Linked DNA regions of Homo sapiens: region 1 is linked to region 2. A link means that fine-mapping ties the variant in region 2 to the expression of a gene that starts in the linked region. Tissue or cell type: whole blood. Region 2 holds a variant in brackets; the other region holds the start of a gene. All regions are shown on one strand. Distances are from middle to middle.

Region 1 (2,757 bases), 34 kb after region 2:
CTATTAAAATAACGAAGCCTACATTTCCACATCTATAAAAGATAATACCTACCTATTCCACAGGCTTTTTACGAAGATGGAACGCGAATGTACATCAAGTGCCACATGTTATAGTTGAGGTATTTATTAAAGGCAAGACTTCTTTAAAAAAAAATAAGTCGTTATCAACTCATTACATAGATAATATCAAACTTTTTTCACTCATTATTGCACTCCATGACGGCGTTTGATAATTCATTTTCGTTTAAAATCGCCAAAATCGCAACCCATAAGGTTGAAAGACGCTCATACCCCCATAAATATACCTAAAGTAGAAAAGCATTTGCACGATAACCGGAACATCAAAAAAAGCAAAATTTAGTAATTTCCTCTATAAACTCACCACTCATTTAAAAACACAGCTGGTTAAAAATAATCTACTACCTTCAGTGGGTAAGAAAATGCGTTTGAAGAGACATAAGGTGTGGACGTTTATATCTTAAGTATTCATTTTACAAGGGTCAGTTTGTTCAATGTAACCGTATCCAAAACACAAGCAATCGCAAAACAAAACAAACAGAACCCTGCTTATAGGTGTCAAGGATTTAAAACCAAATGGATCGCAACAAAAGAGCCTCCCCGTTTAGTAAACAGATTCTCGAGCGGCAGGCAAGCCGAGGACCAGGCTTTTCAACAGGGGTCAGCTCACTCCACTCGGCCGTCATCTGGCGGGGTATTTTTCGCGAAGTTTCAAAGTCAACAAAGAAGTTCTGTCGCGAGGGGGTAGGGCCTGGCGAGCAATAGGCAGAAGGACGTAAAGAAAGACAAAACCCAGTGGGGGAAGGGTGCGGAAAACGCCCCCGGACGGCAGCGACAGAGGCCCCCTTTTCTGGGCCAGCGCGCGACGGCGGGGACAAGGGAGGCCACGCCGGCCTGCAGTAGCCCCGAGGCCCCGACCCCGGCCCCGGCCCCTGCCCGGCAGGGTCCCCGCCCCCCTCGGCGGCGCGGGCGGGAAACGGCGGGGGGCGCGCAGAGGGTCACCTTCCGCTCCCCGGCCCAGAGGCCCAGCGGGTGGACAAACGGCCCAGGCGTCCGCCCCGCCGCGATCCAGCAGCCCACCTCGAGCGCCGCGGACCTGGCCGGGGTACGAACCCGGGCGCCGACGCAAGGGCTCGGGCGCCGCGCGTCGCCGACTTACCTTCCTCCGCGGTGTCCATCTTGTCTGGGGGGGCGGCGGTGACGCAGCCACGAGGCTCCCGCGGCCGGGCGGGGAAAGAGGGAGGGGAGAGGAGGAGGGAGCCGGGCCCGGGCAGGTGCGTACGCTCAGGTGCGAGAGAGGAAGCGAGAGGAAGGAGAGGGGAGAGGGAGAGGGAGAGAGGCTGACAGAAAGCGAGCGACACGGGAGGGGGAGGGGCGGGAACACCTAGGGGCGAGGCCTGGGCGGGGCGCCGAGGCGGAAGGGGCGGGAGCTCCCCAACGACAGGCGCTGTCACTTCCGGCGGCCGCGGCGTGCACTGTCGGTCGGCGGCTAAGGAGGGGAGGCACCTGCATCTGGGGCGCGGCGAATCCTCGCGTGCGCCAGGCCGCCTGGGGTAGTCGCCGAGACTGCGCCGGCCAGCGGGGCCGAAACCTAATCAGGAGCTGAGCTTTGATGGCGGCTTCTGGAGGGACAAAGAAGGCGCAGAGCGGTGGGAGGAGGCTGCGAGAACCTAGCTCCCGCCCCAGCCGACGTGCGAGACAAAGGCCCCGGCGCGGGGCTCTTCGGAAGGCCGGGAGGTTCCTGTGACAATGCGAGTCTGCGCCCCACGCTCCCGCACCGTGATGCCGAGGCCAAATGGCTAGAGTGGGCCCAGGCATCAGCATTTCTGTTTGGCAGCCGGGCAGTTGTGGTGCACGTTTTGAGGAACTACTAAAGCCTGCCTGTGATGAAAAAGGCAAAAGCTGACTTCACCAAAATTACTCCCAGGGAGACTTCTGCATTTGGCTGGAAGGACATTTGAGTAAACCGCTGAGGCTGGTGGTTGAAACATAATCCTCTAAGGGAGATCGGTTCCGATACCCTGAGTTAGGGACGCTTGCCTGGGCAGAGCTAAGGGGAGAATGATCAAAAGCCAAGCTCTGTCCCCGTCAGCACGTCACCCTCCCTCACTGTAATCCCTGACTGTTTTCTCTAAATGAAGAATTATTTAGAGAATATAAATTAGAAGGGCCGCCACGTCAGAATTGCCTGAGTGGGAGCAGTCTTTCCAGCCTCGAAAAATGTTTAAACAATATGCAGATGACCTAGCACAAATAAAGAATGCTAGCAACCGCTGTTATGTGTGAGCGGTGGAATTGGGAGGGCTCTTCCCCCAATCTTCATCAAACAGAGTAAGGTTTAGAATAAAAATAATGAAATACAGTCTTTCAAAAAGAGCAGCGCTTGACTAATGTTACTGATGTCACTCATGTTACTCAAGGGAGGAAAGAACTCAAACTCTACATAATAATACCCACTGATTTCAAGGGCTGGCACGGAGAATTAAGCAGACCGCCATTCTTTATATTTGTTTTTTTGTTGTTGTTTGCTTATGATTTTTTTCTTTCTTTTTTTTTTTTTTTTTTTGAGAAGGGGTCTCGCACTGTCACCCAGGCAGGAATGCAGTGGCGCGATAATGGCTCACTGCAATCTCACTATATTGACCAGTATGATTTTCAACTCCTGTCTTTAAGCGATCCTCACGCTTCGGCCTCCCAAAGTGCTGGGGTTACAGACATGTGCCACTATGCCCTGCCTAA
Region 2 (2,757 bases):
TCTTCCTTGCTATCAGCAATAATCCTAACTGTTTGTTACAGATTTTAAACATTTGGTGACAAACTCTGGAGTCCTTTTTCCTTACTCCTTTAATCTGGGCTGGTTTTGTGAATCCTGGACAGAGGCGATGCTGCCCAAGTTCCAGAGCCCAGAGGAGGGCCTGCAAGCTTCTTCTCTTGCCCTTTTAGAATGCTGCCCTGAGACTACCATGTAAAGAAGCCCTACTAGCCTTTTAGAAGATAAGAGGCCACAAAGAGAAGAACCAAGGCATCTCAGACAAACCATCTTAGATCATTAAGTCCCAGTAAAACAGCTGAGTGACCTAGGCAAGCCCAATAGATGAAAAGCTCAGCTGAGCCCAGCCCAAACTGCTGACCCCAGAATTATAAGCAAATAAAATGGTAGCTGTTTTAAGCCACTAAGGTTTGGGACAGTTTGTTTTGCAGCAATAGATAACTGATACAGTGCACCTAGACATGACCTCAATTACTGAGCTACAGAATACATAGAAACTGGTAAGACATTAAGGAAATTTAAAGTAAAATTTCACAGAAAAAAAATTCTATAGAGAGTGTAAAACATTACTCAGAAAAAAAGTAGTTTGGTCACAACTGCTATCAGAAAAACTGGCTCAATTTTTCAAACTGTAAAAGACAGCTAAAACCAAGCCATGTTTATAATTTATTTTGACTAGCCCCACTAGGCTTCCAGTGGTCCTCTGGAGTCAATGAGTAGTCTAATGAAAGCAATTCAGGTGACCCTCAAGCCTATCAGGTGAGAGGGAAAAAGAAGCCTGCCAATATAAGGCAAGCAACAATGCTTAATATCAAGATATAGTAAAGTAACTACAGGCAAGTTCTTAGCATTTATATTCTAATAATCATGGAAAACATTTAAAAAATAAATTTGAGTTCAAATGTGTATGTTAAAAACACATGTTAAAACGAACTCTTGGGCAAGCACAGTGACTCATGCCTGTAACCCCAGCACTTTGAGAGGCCGAGGCAGGCAGATTACTTGAGGTTAGGAGTTTGAGACGAGCCTGGCTAACATGGTGAAACCCCATCTCTACTAAAAATACAAAATATTAGCCTGGCTTGCTGCCACATGCTTGTAATCCCAGCTATTCAGGAGGCTGAAGTAGGAGACCCAGAAGGCAGAAGTTGCAGTGAGCAGAGATCACACCACTGCACCCTACCCCAGGTAATAGAGCGAGGCTCCATTTAAAAAAACAAAACAAAAAAACTTTTGTGAACATAAGACAGTAGTATGTATCTCAAACTGCGTGACAGCCTATTTAAAAAGTCATCCCGGACGGGCGCGGTGGCTCACGCCTGTAATCCCAGCACTTTGGGAGCCCGAAGCGGGTGGATCACCTGAGGTCAGGAGTTCGAGACCAGAGTGACCAACATGGTGAAACCCTGTCTCTACTAAAAATACAAAAATTAGCCAGGCATGCTGGCGAGTGCCTGTAATCCCAGCTACTCTGGAGGCTGAGGCAAGAGAATC[G/A]CTTGAACTCAGGAGGCGGAGGTTGCAGTGAGCCGAGATCGCACCATTATACTCCAGCCTGGACAACAGAACAAGACTCCATCTCAAAAAAAAAAAAAAGAAAGAAAGAAAAGTCATCCCATCATTACAAAACAGTCCCATAAAACAGGTATGTTTTAAAAGAAGTGTCATTTACATTTATCAGCTACTTCTACTGCAGCTATAACTGTTAGTGTAATAGACATAAATTATTGTTCTCAAAACAAAAGAATTTACAAATTATAATAAAATAAATATGCAAGGAAAAAAGCAAGCATCATCTACATCATGCAACATTCGTCACAGAGGTTCAATACTCACGTTGACAGCATATCTAATGGCAGCGTCAGTAGTGAGCTCACGGAGCCAGTAAACAAGCACTTGTAGATGCGGCCTACCGAAAAAGAGCATGATGGCACACAGTCACAACTCGCATCATGAATTCACATAGCTGCTCAAGAAAGCAGAGGTAAAGTGGAACGCCACAAATGCCACTGAAATAAACATTTAGTCTTTACAAGCCTAAGTCTCAAAATATTAAATTTTTAAAAACACAGTCAAGCACAAATATAGTGACAATGAAGAGTAAATGTTACACAATCATGTTTAGCACTTAGATTCTCTCTAGGTTTAGTTGCTTTTTTTTATTGAATGAGCTTAGATGTTTGAAAAGAAAAATCTAAAGTAAAGATCTCCAAAATTATAATATAAAGAATTTTTTAAATTCTAGAATTCCAAAATTCATTAAGTCTGCTCATGACAATAAAAGGTTTCAGTTTTGGAGGTATAAGTCTTTGAAATTAAGAGAATTTTTCAGTAGAGTATGTACTGCAATGCCATAAATGGCAACCTGACAACCAATATTTTAAAAGCACAGATTCACAGGTCCTCTAAAATACAGAATATAATTATTCTAAATTCTGGCCATTTAGAGAAAGACAAAGTATGGGTGAACGAACTGCTATCAAGGCAGAAAGTCTTTTAGTCAGGAAAGCAGAATTCTAGACAGAATGAGATAACAGACCACAGATTTGAAAATGGGGCACAAGAATAAAAACCTGAGGCTTTCTTTCAAACCAGTATTTGTGTATTAGCTTAAGCATTCCCTATATAGCCTTGTATCGGAGACTTCCAATCAGATTTTCAGTGACTTCAATGGCTGTTTTCAAAACCAAGTCAAAATGGAAAGGTAGGAAAAGATTTTCTGTAATAAAAATTACTTACATGTTT

What was found. PIP is the estimated chance that this variant, and not a neighbour inherited with it, causes the effect.
Region 1: it holds the start of MARCHF6, and the variant in region 2 is fine-mapped to the expression of MARCHF6 in whole blood (TOPMed, PIP above 0.99).

Annotation. Positions count from the first base shown.
Region 1 is chr5:10,352,338-10,355,094 of GRCh38, reverse strand. MARCHF6 (membrane associated ring-CH-type finger 6) reads right to left here and starts at 1,400. Exons shown (of 26, transcript NM_005885.4): 1 at 1,178-1,400. The coding sequence starts at 1,196. It overlaps MARCHF6-DT (MARCHF6 divergent transcript), which reads left to right and starts at 1,038. Exons shown (of 3, transcript NR_183261.1): 1 at 1,038-1,123. RefSeq lists enhancers at 164-735, 1,582-1,841 and silencers at 792-1,261, 1,302-1,441.
Region 2 is chr5:10,386,158-10,388,914 of GRCh38, reverse strand. MARCHF6 (membrane associated ring-CH-type finger 6) reads right to left here. Exons shown (of 26, transcript NM_005885.4): 5 at 1,849-1,921. Among named protein-coding and RNA genes, the nearest start is that of MIR10397, 15 kb to the left of the region's middle. The variant G/A (reference allele first, on the strand shown) is at 1,510.